Linked DNA regions of Homo sapiens: region 2 is linked to region 1. The links come from fine-mapping of genetic effects on plasma protein levels. A gene starts in region 1. The other region holds a variant in brackets. All regions are shown on one strand. Distances are between the middles of the regions. Region 1 holds the start of CD109 (CD109 molecule). Region 2 overlaps CD109 (CD109 molecule).

The links. A credible set is the group of variants that fine-mapping cannot tell apart. PIP is the posterior inclusion probability: the model's chance that the variant is causal. Protein levels are from the aptamer-based SomaScan assay of Sun 2018.
Region 2: its variant is the best candidate, but not a certain one, in a credible set for the plasma level of the CD109 protein (Sun 2018, PIP 0.53).

Annotation. Positions count from the first base shown.
Region 1 is chr6:73,687,266-73,697,556 of GRCh38, reverse strand. CD109 (CD109 molecule) reads right to left here and starts at 1,354. Exons shown (of 33, transcript NM_133493.5): 1 at 1,268-1,354; 2 at 1-157. The coding sequence starts at 1,341. CD109-AS1 (CD109 antisense RNA 1) reads left to right here and starts at 1,426. Exons shown (of 2, transcript NR_110889.1): 1 at 1,426-1,725; 2 at 1,982-3,654. RefSeq lists a silencer at 1,185-1,234 and enhancers at 797-1,511, 1,465-1,724.
Region 2 is chr6:73,707,014-73,717,304 of GRCh38, reverse strand. The region is part of intron 2 of CD109 (CD109 molecule); the gene reads right to left. Among named protein-coding and RNA genes, the nearest start is that of CD109, 16 kb to the right of the region's middle. The variant G/C (reference allele first, on the strand shown) is at 6,005.

The DNA of each region.
Region 1 (10,291 bases):
TTCTGCTTCCAGGACAGAGACAGTGAGGTTTGATGCTGTCTTGAGCAGCTCCGCCTTCACAGTCACCTGTGAAGGGCAGTGTTCCAGAAGCTCCACCCCAATAGTCACATTTCCTCCGGGCCTGATGATCCCTGGGGCTGTCACCAGAAACCGAGGCCTAAAGAGTTCCCAACAAGGGAAAAACAAAGTTTCTTATCCTCACATCTCCTTTCTTTTGTGACCCTCAGATTTCCTAGTGCGATAGGCACTCCATACTGCGCCAATTGCAGTTGTTTCCGTTAACATTGCCCACTGCTCTATTTGGCAACTGAATTGAAATGCTACTGAAACAACAATAATTCCCATAAATCAATTTTAATGCAGTAATTCATGCATCACTACTAGAGGAAGGCCTGTGTTATTATTTCCATTTTATAAACCACGAACCGCACAGAAGGAACCATGATGTAAATGGCTTGCACCGGGGCATAATGGAGTTATTGGCAAAGCAAAAGTCTCTAAGCTTCTCCTTTACAGAGGACCTTATCCCAGCGTGATTATTTTCTTGTTGTTGTTGTTATTTTTTAACTAAGATTTTGCCTGTTTCTTATTCAAACCTTTATCCTTGAGTAGCTGCCCAACGAGGGTAAAAAATTATTTAACCAATACCATTGATTGAAATATACCATTTGAAAATAAACTACAACTGGTGAAAATTCCAGGTATAGCGAATCATAAAAGAAGTCACTAAAGCAGCACTTTCTCTGCTATAACTAGGGGTTAGGGCTCAACTACAGAAATCTTTAGGAATGAATGGGGCTTGCCATTATTGGGTGCTGTTGTTTTCTTCCTATAATGTCTGCCCCTGAACCCATACATCAGTCCCCTCCGCCACACTTTGGCAATGCTAAGGTTGAGACATCTTGGTTAGAAAAAATATATCATGTCTTTGAGAGAAGAATCGCAATCTGGGAGCAAAAAGTTGAGAAGCAAAAGGCAGAGGCAATGTGGACTAAAAATAAAATGACTCTCTTCAGAAAGTTGTTATGGCCGGGGAGACGCTTAAACAACTTCATGAGTGGAGAAAGTTAACTGTCCCATGGAGAGCCACGCTGAAGCTACATATGGTCAAACCTCCAGGCCAGTACCAGGCTGGGGACTGCAGCCGCGAGGGCATTTCCCACCCGCTGCTGCACAGCAGCCGCCACCTCCCCGAAGCCCTGGCCCAGAGCCGCAGAGCGGCCCAGGCCCGCGCGCCCGCGCGCCCCCCGCGCGCCCACGTTCCTACCCGGGAGCCACGGCCAGCGCGGCGGTGCACACGCAGAGGAGGTGGGCGGCGGTCAGGAGCGGTGGGCCCTGCATCTCGACGGCGTCTGCCTGGGCTACAGTCCGCTGCCGGGGAAGTTCGCGGGCACCGTGGGGTGTGGCTTGCCACCTCCTCCCTGATTTTTTTTCCCTCTTAATTCGAGTTTAGTAATCTGAAATGGGCGCGCCTAACAGCAGAGTGAGAGATCTAAATTGAGACAGGACTTGGAGGCTCCACCCCTCCCATCCCCATTACAATGGCGCTTCTCGCTGCTGTGGCAAACATCGCAAATCCAGGGGGTGAGAAAGCAGTTGCTAAACGCAGGCGGCCCCACCTGGCCCGGCGTCCCAGCTGGCCGCGGAGAACAGAGCGCGCCCACTTCCCCGGCCCACCGGGTTCCTCAGGCTGTTTACACTAGCGCTCTACCAACGATGCCCAGGGTGAGTAAACAGGCCCATCCTTGTGAGGAGAAATTCATAGCAACTATGTGAAGTGGAAAAAAGTCAATCATTGTCCTCCAGACTATGAGTCAGAATTTTAGAGAAACGGCACACACACACACGCACACACACACGCACGCACACGCGCGCAAAACCGGGGCGTATTTCCTGGGTAGTTATTTAATGTATATGAATGGAAACAGAAAAACTATTTTTCCTTAAAACAAAAAATGAGGTCTACTGCTTTCCTTTCCAGGAAAATGTTATGATTTATCACCTTAAAAAAAAAAAGAAGAAGAGAACTCGCACTGCAGACGTTAGGTGTTGCTACTTGGAACCCTGAAAAAAAATTACCTAAGAAGATGCCTTTATATTTTTGCTACAGAAAGAATTTGGTAGAACTGTAAAGCTTGGAGCAATCTCTGAACACAGTTAGGGTTGGGTTGGCTCTCCTGTCAGAATGAAGGCCAGTGGCCGGTGGTGCCCAGGAGTTATTGATGCCCAACGCTGTCTGGCTTCTTTGCAGCTCCTCTCTCCTGCTCTCTGGCACTGCCACCATCTTCAGATGACTCAGGTTTCACCATGACTACACCATAAAAGCAGGGAACTGCCAGAAACTGTTGGAAAACAGACACATTCAGTCCCTGACAACTTAAACTTTCTAATTCATGGAGCGGTTTTAGATGGTAGCATTCTAATATGGGGCAAAATGCAAACGGAAAAGAGGTCAGCAAAAAGATGTCTCATGACAAAGCTATGTGCTAAATAAGGAAAAGTGAGAAAGTAGCACCTAGACAAACTGTGGTTTGGGGAATCCAGAAACTTGCTTTCCTCCCTTTCCTGTTCCACCCTTTTTCTCCCTGCTGAACAGCTTGCAAAGGTCCTTATGTCCTTTCCTTCAGGCAGCCTATCTTTAGTGGCCAACTTCCTGTGCAGGCAGGACTTAGGAATGGTCAAAAGTGTCTGTGTGGATCCCTGGGTGCTGACCTGTTCCTGACACAGCTGTTACTACTGGTCTCCTCACCTCCGTTGTTCAGAGAGGAGGACCATGGTCAAGGGTGGGCCAAGCACCAAGGTCTAACTCAGTGCTTCTCACATGCCAATGTGTGTGAGAATCACATGAAAACAGACTCTGACTTGGCAGGTCTGGAACGAGGACTGGGATTCTGCTTTACTTTAGCAGACAGTAGGCCATGGAGACTCTACAAGTGGGGGCAATTTGGGGGCAATTTGATGAGCAAAGGCAATTAAGAACACAGAAAATTCTTCTCAATCTTTCACTTCATAAAGGTGGATTAATAAATTCAGGTTCATTCTAGAGGTAGGCAAACATAAGAGGGACTGCAAAAGATTAGATGATAATGTTGCCTCCCGAGAAGACTTACAGAAAGTCTTAGAACCACATTGTATAAATCTGTGTGGATTTTAAAGTGATGCCACCTTCCTGTTTATGCCCTCCTTCCCACAATACACACTTGTCGAAAGGCGTAGTCATGCAAAAATTTAGGCATATGGATTTGCATAGAGATGAGGCTATTACATGCCTGGCACAGAGTAGCTATTCAATAAAAATGTGTTAAAAGGATTAATGAAAAATGTTCATCTCAGAAGTGGGATTTTTTATTAAGAAAAACTGAAAATGAGGCCAGGCGTGGTGGTTCACACCTGTAATCCCAGTAATTTGGGAGACCGAGGCGGGTGGATCACCTAAGGTCACGAGTTCGAGACCAACCTGACCAACATTGTGAAACCCCATCTCTACTAAAAATACAAAATTAGCCAAGTGTGGATGGTGGCACATGCCTGTAATCCGAGCTACTCAGGAGACTGAGGCAAGAGAATTGCTTGAACCTGGGCGTTGGAGGTTGCAGTGAGCCGAGATCGCAGAATTGCTCTCCAGCCTGGGCAACAAGAGCAAAACTCCGTCTCAAAAAAAAAAAGAAAAGAAAAGAAAGAAAAGAAAAAAGAAACACTGAAAATGGGCCGGGCATGGTGGCTTATGCCTGTAATCCCAACATTTTGGGAGGCTGAGGAAGGCAAATCACTTGAGGGCAGGAGTTCAAGACCAGCCTGGCCAAAATGGTGAAACCCTGTCTCTACTAAAAATACAAAAATTAGCCCAGCATGGTGGCACATACCTGTAATAAAAGCTACTCAGGAGGCTGTGGCATGACAATCACTTGAACCCAGGAGGTGGAGGCTGCAGTGAGCCAAGATGGTGCCACTGCACTCCAGTCTGGGTGACAGAGCAAGACTCTGTCTCAAAAGAAAAACTGAAAATGGTCTGAACATGTAACAATAAGATATTGGGTTTGCTGTCATTTGGATGTTTGTCGCCCAAAGCTGATGCTGAAATTTGATCCCCAGTGTTGGAGGTAGAGCACAATGTGAGATGTTTGGGTTCTGTGGGTGGATCCTCATGAATAGATGAATGTCCTCCCTGGGGGTCGGGGGGTGAGTGAGTACTCAGTTCCCACAAGAATTGGTTGTTAAAAAGAGCCTGGCACCTCCTGCTTCTCTTGTTTCCTCTCTCACCATGGGATCTCTGCACACTAGCTCCCCTTCCCCTTCCACATGAGTGGAAGCAGCCTGAGGACCTCACCAGAAGCCAAGCAAATGCCAATGTCATGCTTCTTGAACAGCCTGCAGAATTGTAAGCCAAGTAAACTTTTTTTTTTAATAAATTACCCAGCCTTGGGTACTACCTTATAGCAACACAAAACAGACAAAAACAGGATTAAATAAATTACAGTATATCCATGCAATGGAATACTGAAATAATTAAAAACTATTTGTTTAATTGGAGCTTGTTTAACCATCTAGAGACAAATATTCATATGTTATTAAGGAGGGTATATTAGTCTGTTCTCACCCTGCTAATAAAGACATACCTGAGACTGGGTAATTTATAAAGGAAAGAGATTTAATTGATTCACAGTTCCACATGGCTGGGAGGCCTCACAATTATGGTGGAAGGCGAATGTGGAGCAAAGTCAAGTCTTACATGGTGGCAGGCAAGAGAGCATATGTAGGGGAACTCCCCTTTATAAAACCATCATATTTCGTGAAATTTATTCACTATCACAAGAAAAGCATGGGAAAGACCCACCCCCAAAATTGAATTACATCCCACTGGGTCCCTCCCGTGACATGTGGGAATTATGAGAGCTGCAATTCAAGATGAGATTTGGGTGGGGACACAGCCAAACCATATCAGAGGGGAAGTCTGTTTTATAAAACAGAATTTAAATTTCATTTTATTTTTATAAAAAATAAAGTGTATTTATGTGTACATAGACATTACAGATCTATGCACTGAAGAAAGACTTGAAGGATATTCACCAAAATGCTATTATCAGTATCCTGGTGATTACCTGGATATGCCAAGTTTCCTACAATAAATATATATTATATCTCCTTTAAGAAGAAAACAATAATAATATTATTTTAGTAAATAGTTTTTGAGGGGGCATCTTAGAAGCTCTTTTGCATAAAACTTCTGAATTTTGATACCAAAAATATCATCTATGCTTATTGCATGAAAACCTAATGGTCTCTTGGATAAGAACCCCACACTGTTCCTGTGTCCCTCCTGAGCTGTCTTTAAGGTGTTGATATGGTTTGGATCTGTGTCCCTGCCCAGATCTTATGTCAAATCCCCAATTTCGGAGGTGGGGCCTGGTAGGAGGTGATTGAATCATGGGGGCAGATTTCCCCCGTGGTGCTGTTCTTGCGATAGTGAATCTTCATGAGATCTGGTTGTTTAAAAGTATGTGGCACCTCCCCCCACCTCTTTTGGTCCTTCTCCTGCCATGTAAGATACCACGAGCCCATACATCAGCCCCTTCTGCCATACTTTGGCAATGTTAAAGTTGAGACCATGAGTAAAAGCTCCCTGAGGCCTCCCTAGAAGCAGATGCTGACATGCTTCCTATATAGCCTGTGGAACTGTGAGCCAATTAAACTTCTTTTCTTTATAAGTTACCCAGTCTCAGGTGTTACTTTATAGCAATGCAAGAACAGAGTAATTCAATGAGAAAGGCAGAACCACTATGAGTGAGACAGACCCTAAGCAATCATGGGAGCTGGTAGGGCAGTTTGTGCAAACCATTGCCCCTGTGTGTGGTGTGCAGCATAACATAACTATGAGTCAGCCAGGGGAGAAAAGCTAAATGTGGGTAAGAATAAAGAAAAACTGATTGAGAAGTGGAACCCATGTCCATCTTACCACCTCCAACTTCCATGTCATGAGTAACCTGCAGGAGAAGCTGGTGTCCTTTGTCCAGAGCTTCATGTACATTTGGCCCACAATTCAGAAAAACTGAAGGAAGAGAGCCTCTGAGAACTAAAGGAGCTACAGGCCTGACTGTGGCCCTGAACCCACAAAGTGAACTGGCACATTAGTAACAGTATGGACAAGTGTTCCCAACTGCCTAGCACTCTAAACCAAGCTTCAGAAAGTAAAAAATACAGGTGTATGGGGTACCCCACCTCCCCTTTATAGTCTGCTCTGTCCATAACACCAGCTGGAGGCTTTCCTGGGGCCACCTGAGTCCAGGCCCCAATCAGATGGACATTGGAAGGGGTGAGACCAGGACTGGCAGGGAGCAGTTAGTTGCCTTTCTAGTCTCCCTCCCTAGCCATGCACTTTTGCCTTTAGAAAAATGATGGGGAAAACCTTGGCTCCTTCTTTGTCCAGAAAGTGTTAATTGCCTGTGGGTTCTGGTGGCCGGGGAGAAGAGCAGGAAAGCAGAGAGCAGGTGGGTGGCTGAAAGGGAAGAGGGGAGGAACACGGCAGAAACATGAAGGTGACCCTATCTATTCCCCTGGAGAAGGGGTGAGAGGTCAGGTAGAGTAGCTGCTCAGTACACAAAATGTAGAAAGATGATGAGAAAAAAAAATCTGCTACAGTCTTACCACTACCCAGAGACAAGCATTATTTCATTTTGTTGTGTTTCCTTCCTCTCTTTCTTTCTCCACATAATTTGCTGGTATCTTTTTTAAAGAGTAATTATGTTATAAATATAATACAACTTTGTGCTTTGTGTCCTACTTTTCCCATTTAATTATTCCATCATAAGCATTTCCTCATGTTTTACAAACCTTTTTTAAATAAAATGTTCATCAGCTGCAGCCGGGCACGGTGGCTCACGCCTGTAATCCCAGCACTTGGGAGGCCGAGGCGGGCAGATCACCTGAGGTCAGGAGTTTGAGACCAGCCTGACCAACATGGAGAAACCCCGTATCTACTAAAAATACAAAATTAGCAAGGCGTGGTGGCACATGCCTGTAATCCCAGCTACTCAGGAGGCTGAGGCAGGAGAATCTCTTGAACCTGGGAGGCGGAGGTTGCGGTGAGCCGAGATCACACCACTGCACTCCAGCCTGGACAACAAGAGCGAAACTCCGTCTCAAAAAAACAAACAAAAAAAATGTTTATCACCTGCATAATAAAACAAACAAAAGGAATAAAAACATTTTCAGAAATGGAATGGCTCAGAAACTTCGCCTTTCACAAATTCATTTTAGGAAGTTACTTTAGGAAGACATATTTAGCAACGAAGTGAAATAAGCCAAGAAAAAGGGAAATGTATATATAACCCCAGAAAAAAATGAAGAGAGAACTTCTAATAGGAAAAATTCCAGGAGTAAGCTCTTAAGGGAAATAAAAGGGATCTTAATCGAATAGATGTACATAATGAAATACAAGAAAACTGAGACTATGATAAAGTAAAATAGTGCAGTAAAAAGGAAGGGAATTTAGAAATTCAAGGGAAAAGCAAACACTGAATAAAAAAGAATATATCATGATTCATTAGTTGGCTTTGCAGTGAAAAATAATTAGTTGTGTTGATGTAAGTATGGTTTACTGATTTATAACAGAATAAAAGAATTGACAAAGAAGATTTAATTACACTGTTTCACCATTTCTAAAATATATGTTTTTCACATTTGTAACATTTCTGATCTTATAATCAATGGTATCATAATAATAATTGACAATAAATTTTCTTTCTTGGTATTAAAGTAAGTGGTGTATCTTAGATTTGATGAAATATGTGAAATACACAATGTTTACAAAACAATGTAAATGGTGTTAATACTTGAAAAGAGCACAGATGACAAAAACTTACAAAGTCAAAGAGGGATGAAGAATTAAAGCATTGACTGAGACACTAAGAGCCTTATAAAGTAAAAAAAAAAAATGTGTCTACAGTTTTCTTGGATCAAGAAATATGTCATAAGCATATTAAGACTATAAAGTAGTGTAAGGATATAAGAAAAACTGAACCAAAGTGGTTTTCCCACTTTTATACACTCAATATAACACACTGGCCACCAAAATGCATAGAAGAGCTTCTCCCATGCTGACCAAGCAATCAATTCTCTGGCAGATTCTACAGCAGACTCAGCTGAGCATCCTCTAAGTCAATTCAATCCCAACACAAACTACCTGGAAATAGCAGCAGATCCCCTAGGTTGAGGGTTCCTTCCCATAAGACTGCCCCCAACCTTAGATGCCAATCACAAACTCAGGTTGTGACCTGTGCTTCTGATCCAACAGCTATAAATTGGGGTTCCCACAATCCCATCCTTGGGTTTGGTTAATTTGCTAGAGCAGCTCACAGAACTCAGGGAAACTATGTTTCCCAGTTTATTAATAAAGGGTATAATAAATGACCTCTGCCAATTCTAGTTTGGAAGTTGAAAGATGTCGCCCAATGGAATAATTTATAAACTAATTAATTAATTAACAGAAGCAGCTGGGCTTGGTGGCTCATGCCTGTAATCCCAGCACTTTGGGAGGCCAAGGCAGGAGTACTGCTTGAGCTCAGGAGTTCGAGACCAGCCTGGGCAACATAGCAAAACCTTGTCTCTACTAAAAATCAAAAAAATTAGCCAGATGTGGTGGTGCGTGGCTGTAGTCCCAGCTACTTAGGAAGCTGAGGTAGGAAGATCACTTGAGTCTGGGAGATTGAGGCTGCAGTGAGCTTGATTACACCGCTGCACTCCAGCCTGAGTGACAGAAGGAGACCCTGTCTCAAAAAAAAAAAAAAAAAAAAAAAAAACAAAGAAAAACTCTCAGAACCCTATAATCCAGGAATTTTTATGGAAGCTTCATCAAGTAGAAATAATTATTAATGCCATTTCCAGCCCTTCTCCCCTCTCCAGAGGATGAGGGTGCACTAGAAGTTCCAGGCTTCTAATCATAGCTTGGTCTTTCTGGTGACCAGCCTCTATCCAGCAGCCTACCAAGAGTTACCTCATTAGTACAAAAGACTCTCTCATCGCACAGAAAATTCCAAGGGATTTAGGAGCTCTGTGTCAGATGCTAACACTTAGGAAATTACAAATGTCTTTGGAGCTCTGTGTCAGGAACCAGAGCAGAGACCAAATATTAGAACAAAAGATTCTCCTAGCACCCCTATCTAACAGAGTATTAAGAACTCTGTTTCAAGAACCAGAGCAGAAACCAAACATTAGAATGAAAGATTCTCCTAGCACTCCTATTGCTCAGGAAACTACAAGAGTTTTAAGAACTCTGTGCCAGGGACTGGGGGGCAGAGACCAATATGTGTATTTTTTATTGCACAACAGCCAATTAGAAATTAAAATACTAATATATTATCATAAATAGTAAAAGCAAAGGTATGTTTTCCAAAAAAAATCTACCAGACAAAAAGAAATCACAATTAATTTGAGTTCTTACAAAGTTTCTAGTGTTCTTCTAGTGCATGATTTTAATTACTATATTTTGAACAGCAAAGTACTATCTGGGGAAGATACATTAATCTGAGATGACATCTGCCAATGCCAGTTGGGAGTTTCTCACCTAATGGGACAATTTGTAAACTTATTAATCTATTAATAAGCAAAGAAACAACCTCAAAATCACACCAACAATAAACTTTTGCTTCAGATCCCAAGTTTGCAGGCCAGCTGAGGCAGTTCCCACTTTGTGTTTCTCCTTTTCCTTGGAACAGTAGTCTGGGAAAAGCACGTCCTTCTTGCGGTCATGGTAGAAGCACAAGAGAACAAGCCCCACTGCTCAAGCACATTTTAGGTCCCTGTTTACTTGACATCTGTGAAGATCCTGTTGCCCAGAGCAAGTTTCATGGTCAAGGACCAAGTCAAGGATGGGTAGAATACTCCACCTTTTGGTTAGAGGAACTGCAAACTTAATTATGTGGGAAAGGATATGGATGGGAGAAAATTGGGACAAATAATTCAATCTACCACAGACAGTTAGCAAAATTTGCCAAAAGCTGTGTTCTGTTCATCAAGACAATGTTTCCATGAAGGACAATTAGCCTATCAAGGAAGGAAGGAAAGAAGGGGAGGAGAGGGAAGGAGAGGGGAGGGGAGGGTAGGGAAGGGGAGGGGGAAAGGAAGAAGGGAAGAGAGAGAGCATGCATGTGAAAGAAGGAAGGAAGGAGAGAGAGGAGAAAGAGAAAGAAAGAGGAAGGAAAGAAAGACTGAAGGGAGGAAGGAGTATCCAATGTCTAAAATCATGCATGGTTTTTTTTAGTTATTCACTTTTGGAGGATGCTGCAATATGAACTCA
Region 2 (10,291 bases), 20 kb before region 1:
GAAATAGAAAAAAAATCCTAAAATTTTTATGGAACCACCAAAGACCCAGAATAGCCAAAGCCATACTGAGAAAGAAAAAAAAAAAGGAGGAATCACATTACCTGACTTCAAATTATGCTACAGAGCTATAGTAACCAAAACAGTATGATATTGGCATAAAAACAGACACACGACCAATGGAACACAATAGAGAAGCCAGAAACAAATCCATACACCTACAGTGAACTCATTTTTGACAAAGGTGCCAAGAACATATATTGAGGAAAAGATAGTCTCTTCAATAAATGGTGCTAGGAAATCTGGATGTACATATGCAGAAGAATGAAACTAGACCCTGTCTCTCACCATACACTAAAATCAAATCAAAATGGATTAAAGACTTAAACCTAAAACCTAAAACTGTGAAACTACTAAAAGAAAACTTTGGAGGGACTCTCCAGGACACTGAACTGGGCAAAGATTTCTTGAGCAATATCCCACAAGCACAGGCAACCAAAGCAAAAATCGACAAATGGGATCACGTCAAGTTAAAAAGCTTCTGCGCAATAAAGGAAACAATCAACAAAATGAAGATACAACTCAGAATGAGAGAAAATCTTTGTAACTACTCATCTCACAAGGGATTAATAACCAAAACACATAAGGAACTCAAATAACTCTACAGGAAAAAATCTAATAATCCAATTAAAAATGGGAAAACGATCTGAATAGACATTTCTCGAAAGAAGACATACAAATGGCAAACAGGTATATGAAAAGGCCCTCTCAACACCATTGATCATTAGAGAAATGCAAATCAAAACTACAATGAGATATCATCTCGCCCCAGTTAAAATGGCTTTTATCCAAAAGACAGGCAGTAACAAATGCTGATGAGGATGTGGAGGAAAGGGAACCCTCATACACTGTTGATGGAAATGAAAATTAGCACAACCACTATGGAGAACAGTTTGGAGGTTCCTCATAAAACTAAAAATAGAGCTACCATACAATCTAGCAATCCCACTGCTGAGTATATACCCAAAAGAAAGGAAATCAGTATATCAAAGAGCTATCTGCACTCCCATGTTTGTTACACCACTGTTCATAATAGCTAAGATTTGGAAGCAACCTAAGTGTCCATCAACAAATGAATGGATAAAGAAAATGTGGTACATGTACACAATTAAGTACTACTCAGCCATAAAAATGAATGAGATCCTGTCATTTGCAACAACATGGATGGAACTGAAGGTCATTATGTTAAGTGAAATAACCCAAACACAGAAAGACAAACTTTGCATGTTCTCACTTATTTGTGGTAGCTAAAAATTAAAACAATTTAACTAATAATGGAGATAAGAGTGTAGAAGGATGGTTACCAGAGGCTAGGGAGAGTAGTGAAGGGTTAGGGAGCAAGTGAGGATGGTTAATGGGCACAAAAAATAGTTAGAAAAATGAATAAGACCTAGTATTTGATAGCACAACAGGAGGACTGTAGTCAATAACAATTTGATTGTACATTTTTAAATAACTAAAATAGTATAACTGGATTGTTTGTAACACAAAGGACAAATGCTTGAGGGAACGGATACCCCAGTTACTATGATGTGGTTGTTGACATTGCATGCCTGTTTCAAAGTATCTCATGTACCCTGTAAATATATACATCTTCTATGTATCCACAACAATTAAAAATTAAAAAAAGAATCAGTTGTATAGTTGGTTTTATTATACATACCTTTTTTTTTTTTTTTTTTGGAGACAGGGTCTCACTCTGTCACCCAGGCTGGAGTACAGTGGTGCAATCATAGCTCACTGCCACCCCAAACTCCTGGACTCAAGCGATCTTCCTGCCTCAGCCTCCCCAGTAACTAGGACTACAAGCACAGGCCACCATGCCTGGCTAATTTTTTTTACTTTTTTGTAGAAATGGGGGCTCATTATGTTGCCCAGGCTGCTCTCAAACTCCTAGGCTCGAGTGATCCTCCCACCTTGACTTCCCAAGGCCCTAGGATTACAGATGTGAGTCACCGTGCCTCATCACTGGTTTTTTGTTTGTTTTTGAGACAGAGTCTTGCTCTGTCACCCAGGCTGGAGTGCAGTGGCACGATCTCAGCTCACTGCAACCTCCACCTCCCGGGTTCAAGAGATTCTCATGCCTCAGCCTCCCATGTAGCTGGGACTACAGGCAAGCACCATCACAGCTGGCTAATTTTTTGTGTTTTTAGTAGAGACAGGGTTGTGCCATGTTGGCCAGGCTGGTCTCGAACTCCTGACCTCAAGTGATCTGCCCGCCTCAGCCTCCCAAAGTGCTGGGATTACAGGCGTGAGCCACTGGACCCAGCCTTGTGCCTCACCATTGTTTTCATTATACATATCTTTGATTATAGTAAAAGTTCCACTGCCTGTATAGCCTGTTTGTATATGTTGCTATCACCACTTCCTCAATCATGGATGTTCAAAATCTCAATCATCTTGAACTCTTTTCTCTCCTCAACTCTAAGTTTATCACTCACCAAAACCTGTGGATTCTTCTTCCATGAAGTTTCTCTTAGAAGAAACTTAGAGTTATACTCCAAGCACTGCAGTAGCGGAGCTAACTCTAAAATATTTTGTGTCATACAAGAACTCTGAAAAGGATATAAAAACGAAAGACTTTCCCAACTCATGTCAATTCTTCACACTACACAGTTTTGACATGTTTGAAGTTGATTCCAAGATCTGAAACATTCCTCTTCAAAGGAAAGTTAAACAGTAGCCAACTCTGAGACGGTAATTACAATGCAGGAGGTTTACTAAGGAGTATTCGGTGGATCAGCACCTGCAGAAGGGAAAGGGGGAAACTGCACTAGGGGAGAGAGCAGTGGGGCTGCAATGCAGGCTCCAAAGAGGCATCCACCAGGGCAGCTCAGAAGCAGTCAGGGCCAGTGAGAGTTGTCCTGAACTGGGGCGAAAGGGCCAGACCTTCATACCCCACGTCAATCAGTCACATAATACAGGCCATCCCCAGGAGGGAGGCCACCATGGGCAAGGCAATTCTCTAGCTGATACGATCATCAGAGACAACTGGCTCTGAAGGCAGTCGGGCACAACACTCCTAGCAGCTTTCGGGAAAAAGTCCTTCATCCCTAAAGAGCGATCTGGGCCCTAAAACACAGCATCCACCACAATGTCCCACATTGGAATAAAATAGAAACAAACTGCAGTGAGCTTCGCCCCAACAAACCAGCACCCTCCATTATTGAGAGTTACTTATTTTTCATTGTATTAAGATAAATCATCAGGGGTTGACTATTATGCTAGCTCCATAACTGGAGGAAGCAATGTGCTTCCTTCCTGCCCTGGTCTGATACCAGCTACCACCCACCGGCAGCAAATTTACAAAGATGAAGAACGACGGGGGAGGGGTGGTAATTTATTTTTATCCAATGACATCAGCAAGGAGAAAGTAAAAAAACAGTTGGGAGTCTACAATCCAAATGAGGCTCTCGGAGATTGACTAATTGGAGGCCAAGCATTCTGGCACTTCAAAACAAGCTAAACAGATTTGAAGTGCAGGAAATCTCATTTCATAGTAGAAGTGTTTTTTGTTTTGTCTTTTGTTTTTAATGCAGCTCTGAATGAAGTCAAATCTTTGAGGAATTCTCTCACCAGAGAGAAGTTGGACGAGCAGTTCAACTGCATGCCTGGGTCCTACTGCTCAGACACATGACCTTATCTGTTCACAGATGCAAGAAAGATACAGAGCTAGAAACAGAAGTCCTACCCAGGCCAGGTGTGGCAGCTCACGCCTATAATACCAGCACTTTGGGAGGGCTGAGGCAGAAGGATCCCTTGAGGCAAGGAGTTCAAGACCAGCCTGGGCAACATCGTGTGACCCCATCTCTATTAAAAAAAAAATAAAAATACAAAATACAAAGACTCTTCCCCAACGCTATGGTGTAGGGACAAAGATGTCCCACCCACCCCTATTTCTTGCTGGATCCAGGGAGCGACTCAGAGGATATGTGGACACATCCAATCTAAGGCCTACTCACTGGTCTCATGCGTCCTTAATAAAAAGTCGATTTTAAGTACTTGACATTTTTTTCTGCTGATCTTCCCTTTAAATTTACAAATACAGCTTGGAATTTCCTAGGCACTTATGAAGTCCTAGCATAGGACTTATTTGAAAGTTCTATTCATTTAGCAATAATTTACACAACCAAAACATAAAATCGGGGGCAGCGGGGAGGAGAGTGGGGGCAGCATAGATGAGAGAGGAATAATAATCTCTTTCTCTGCTGTTGCTAGGTTGAGAATTAAATAGATAGTATTTGCAAACTGTTGTGAACATTTTTCTCCCTTTTGGCGAGGCTCCATTCAGACACGGGAAATGGTCACCACCTCTTGAAACCCAGTATGGCACTCTTTTAAATCACTAACTAAAGACACACTCTGTTATGTAAGGTTCTTCTTAGTGTTTTTATAGATAACTTTATAAAACTCCAATCATTTCTGTGTATAACCAGAGACAATCAATCTGAAAACCCTTTCAGATGCTTTCTCCTTCCCAGGGCTGCTTAAGCAACTCAGAAGAAACCTTGTTTGAAGGCTTCGCATTTGGCACAGCCTGAGAACTGGCCATTTGATTTACAAATAGAGTCAAAGCTATTTTTAAATTGTGTAATAAGCATACACAAAAACTAACCTTTCCTTAACTTTTTAAACATACTCTGTAATACCATTATATGCTGCCTCTTCTGACATCTGTCCTCACCAAATAACTTTGGAAAATCATTGAAGGGAAGGAGTAGTGTGTAACCGGAAATCCAACTAGGTACAGAAATACTCTCTATGAAAAAAAAAGTGGATTTTCCACTAGATATATATATATGCCTGACTTAGTGTTTGCTGCTTAATTATTTTTGGCAGCCTTTTGCTACTCAGTCTTATGCAATAATAAATTTATTATCACTTTTTTAGCTGAAAATTTTGATCTCTTTATCAAGTTACTAAATTTTTTTCCTCATTCTTCAGCAGTTTCTTTGATCAACAGATAAGGTAAGAAATAAGGGTTTTCCCCCCACAAATTCATGGAAAACAAAACTTTAAAATACAATTTTTTTTTTTTTGAGACGGAGTCTCGCTTCGTTGCCCAGGCTGGAGTGCAGTGGCATGATCTCGGCTCACTACAACCTCCGCTTTCCAGGTTCAAGCAATCCTCCTGCCTCAGCCCCCCAGTAGCTGGGATTAGAGGCATGCGCCACCATACCCGGCTAATTTTTGTATAAAATACAATATTTTTTAGAGAGTGAAATAATAGACATTGGAGATTCATATGGCAGGGAGGTAAGGGATAAGAAATGACTTAATGGATACAACATACACTATTTGGCTGATGTTTATACTAAAAGCCCAGACTCCACCACTACCCAAAATATCCATGTAAGAAAACTGCACATGTACCCCCTAAATCTATAAAAATAAAATATTTTAAAAACTTAGGCCGGGCGCGGTGGCTCACGCCTGTAATCCCAGCACTTTGGGAGGCCGAGGCGGGCGGATCACGAGGTCAAGAGATCGAGACCATCCCGGCTAAAACGGTGAAACCCCGTCTCTACTAAAAATACAAAAAAAAAATTAGCCGGGCGTAGTGGCGGGCGCCTGTAGTCCCAGCTACTTGGGAGGCTGAGGCAGGAGAATGGCGTGAACCCGGGAGGCGGAGCTTGCAGTGAGCCGAGATCCCGCCACTGCACTCCAGCCTGGGCGACAGAGCGAGACTCCGTCTCAAAAAAAAAAAAAAAAACTTAAAGTACGATTTTAAAAATACAATGTTTCTGCTTCACAGTTTAATGTCACTTTAAGGCAAAAAAACTATTGGGTAAATTCAGTCTACACAGAAAACACAAGTATTCTGAGCAGAACAAAACCAAACAAAAAATCTCCTTTGGTCCCTTACATACTCCTTTTATATTTTTCTCTCTTATTTCCCTTTGCTTACAAATATCTTAATAAATTTGAGTTTCATAAACAAAGTTTT[G/C]TTCCATTGTCTAAAAAAAAGCAGGTTAAACACAAACATTGAGTAAAAAAAAAAGCAGGTCAAACACAAACCTACTAAAAGTAAAATAAATAAAATGGTACACTATAAAGCAAATGTTAGGTTAAGTACAAATGAAAAACCCAGAGTCAAGCAAGGTTCTTGGCTGCTAAATGTACAGGGCATTTTTAATGGCAGGGTCAGCAATCCACAGCCTACAGATCCAGTCTGGCCCACGCCTGTTTTTTGTACAGTTCATGAACTAAGAATGGGTTTGCATTTCTAAATAGCTGGGGGGAATATCAAAAGAAGAAGAATATTTCATGATAAGTAAAAATTATATGAACTCAAAATTTCAGCATCCATAAATAAAGTTCTGCTGGTACACAACCATGCTCTTTTGTTTATGAACCGTCTACAGCTGCTTCCGAGCTATAAAGGCAGAGTTGAGCAGCTGTAATAAAGACCTGAAGGTTGGCAAAACCTACATGCTTAACATCTGGCCCTTTACAGAAATTTTGCCGACCCCTGTGGCTCTCTTTAGGGAGATTTTCTTCTTCCTCAAGGGATAAGGGATAAGGGTGAAGATCTACCTAAGCCAAAATGAGTCATCAGCAGGGAGACTTGGACTCATGCCACAGGCTTGTGGTCAGGCATCAGTATTAATATCTGATACTGAGAAACACCAGGTACAACATAGTTAACATTCCCTCGGTGTCTTCTATGTACCAAGCATTGTGATAAATGTTTTAAAGATGTGCACTAAAAAAAAAATAGAAAAAATTGGGCAGTATGGCCATTTTCAAGATATTGATTCTTCCTACCCATGAGCATGGAATGTTCTTCCATTTGTTTGTGTCCTCCTTTATTTCGTTGAGCAGTGGTTTGTAGTTCTCCTTGAAGAGGTCCTTCACATCCCTTGTAAGTTGGATTCCTAGGTATTTTATTCTCTTTGAAGCAATTGTGAATGGGAGTTCACTCATGATTTGGCTCTCTGTTTGTCTGTTATTGGTGTATAAGAATGCTGGTGATTTTTGCACATTGATTTTGTATCCTGAGACTTTGCTGAAGTTGCTTATCAGCTTAAGGAGATTTTGGGCTGAGACAATGGGGTTTTCTAGATATACAATCATGTCATCTACAAACAGGGACAATTTGACTTCCTCTTTTCCTAATTGAATACCTTTTATTTCTTTCTCCTGCCTGATTGCCCTAGCCAGAACCTCCAACACTATGTTGAATAGGAGTGGTGAGAGAGGACATCCCTGTCTTGTGCCAGTTTTCAAAGGGAATGCTTCCAGTTTTTGCCCATTCAGTATGATATTGGCTGTGGGTTTGTCATGAATAGCTCTTATTATTTTTAGATATGTCCCATCAATACCTAATTTATTGAGAGTTTTTAGCATGAAGCGCTGTTGAATTTTGTCAAAGGCCTTTTCTGCATCTGTTGAGATAATCATGTGGTTTTTGTCTTTGGTTCTGTTTATATGCTGGATTACGTTTATTGATTTTCATATGTTGAACCAGCCTTGCATCCCAGGGATGAAGCCCACTTGATCATGGTGGATAAGCTTTTTGATGTGCTGCTGGATTTGGTTTGCCGGTATTTTATTGAAGATTTTTGCATCGATGTTCATCAGGGATATTGGCCTAAAATTCTCTTTTTTTGTTGTGTCTCTGCCAGGCTTTGGTATCAGGAAAATGGCCATACTGCCCAAGGTAATTTATAGATTCAATGCCATCCCCATCAAGCTACCAATGACTTTCTTCACAGAACTGGAAAAAACTACTTTAAAGTTCATACGGAACCAAAAAACAACTCACATTGCCAAGTCAATCCTAAGCCAAAAGAACAAAGCTGGAGGCATCATGCTACCTGACTTCAAACTATACTACGAGGCTACAGTAACCAAAACAGCATGGTACTGGTACCAAAACAGAGATATAGACCAATGGAACACAATAGAGCCCTCAGAAATAATGCCACACATCTACAACTATCTGATCTTTGACAAACCTGACACAAACAAGAAATGGGGAAAGGATTCCCTATTTAATAAATGGTGCTGGGAAAACTGGCTAGCCATATGTAGAAAGCTGAAACTGGATCCCTTCCTTACACCTTATACAAAAATTAATTCAAGATGGATTAAAGACTTAAATGTTAGACCTAAAACCATAAAAACCCTAGAAGAAAACCTAGGCAATACCATTCAGGACACAGGCATGGGGAAGGACTTCATGTCTAAAACACCAAAAGCAATAGCAACAAAAGCCAAAATTGACAAATGGGATCTAATTAAACTAAAGAGCTTCTGCACAGCAAAAGAAACTACCATCAGAGTGAACAGGCAGCCTACAGAATGGGAGAACATTTTTGCAACCTACTCATCTGACAAAGGGCTAATATCCAGAATCTACAAAGAAGTCAAACAAATTTACAAGAAAAAAAACAAACAACCCCATCAACAAGTGGGCAAAGGATATGAACACACACTTCTCAAAAGAAGACATTTGTGCAGCCAAAAAACACATGGAAAAATGCTCATCATCACTGGCCATCAGAGAAATGCAAATCAAAACCACAATGAGATACCATCTCACACCAGTTAGAATGGCGATCATTAAAAAGTCAGGAAACAACAGGTACTGGAGAGGATGTGGAGAAATAGGAACACTTTTACACTGTTGGTGGGACTGTAAACTAGTTCAACCATTGTGGAAGACAGGGTGGTGATTCCTCAGGGATCTATAACTAGAAATACCATTTGACCCAGCCATCCCATTACTGGGTATATACCCAAAGGACTATAAATCATGCTGCTATAAAGACACATGCACACGTATGTTTATTGAGGCATTATTCACAATAGCAAAGACTTGGAACCAACCCAAATGTCCAACAACAACAGACTGGATTAAGAAATTGTGGCACATATACACCATGGAATACAATGCAGCCATAAAAAATGATGAGTTCATGTCCTTTGTAGGGACATGGATGAAGCTGGAAACCATCATTCTCAGCAAACTATCGCAAGGACAAAAAACCAAACACCGCATGTTCTCACTCATAGGTGGGAATTGAACAATGAGAACACTTGGACACAGGACGGGGAACATCACACACCGGGGCCTGTCGTGGGATGGGGGAAGGGGGAAGGGATAGTATTAGGAGATACACCTAATGTAAGTGACGCGTTAATGGGTGCAGCACACCAACATGGCACATGTATACATATGTAACAAACCTGCATGTTGTGCACATGTACCCTAGGACATAAAGTATAATAAATATATATATATATATATATATATATATATATATATATATATATATAAAGATAACAATTTTAAATCAAAGTTCTTAACTGCATAATAAAAGAGAAAATAATAACTAATATTTATTAAATTAGGTGTCTTTTATGTGCCAAAAAAAGAAAAAATTGGGTGACATTACTTTTAATAACATATTTTATTTAACTCAATATGTCCAAAATATTAACATTGAACATGAAATCATTATTTTAAAATCATAAGTTTTATTGCATTTCTTGGAACTAAGTATTCAAAATCCATTATGTATTTTATACTCCTGGCACATCTCAATTTGTATGAGCCACATTTCAAGTGCTCAAAAACCACATGTGGTTAGTAGCTACCATATTGGATGATACAGCTCTTAAGTATTATCTCATTTAATCCTCTCAACAATGCTACGAGGTGGGTACTACTATTAGGTGATGCTAGGGTTCAATTTCAGTGTGGTTCCTGAGCACCCATTCTAACCCACTGTGCCTCCCAAACAGTGCAGGACAGACCCAGCTATTCCTTCCAAAACAGTAGTGCAAACATAACCTCATATCCCTTCCCTCCTTGTTCCTCCTCTGTAGCTTACTCCACTCTCATTTACTATTTGGATACACCCACTCTTTCGTCTGTTCTCTCTTATCCATGTTGTTACTACCTCAAGCCCCTATGTAGCTACGTAGATAACCGTTCCTCTTAGACCATTCCTCTTCAACTGATCCATAAATAAAGTTTATGGATGGGCTACAGAATCCTTCGCAGCATTCATACCACACTCCCCAACTCCCATGGCCATGGCAGACACAGCTAATTCATCCAGTTCTCTAGTCCAGTAAACCCACGCTTGACTTTGAAACTGTCAACACGGCACCCGAACAAGCCTCTATAATCAACGTGGGAGGACACATCAAATGAAGCCTACTCTGCTTCCCTGCGAAGAGCACAGGCACAGGAACCTCATGTGGTCACCAAATATTTATG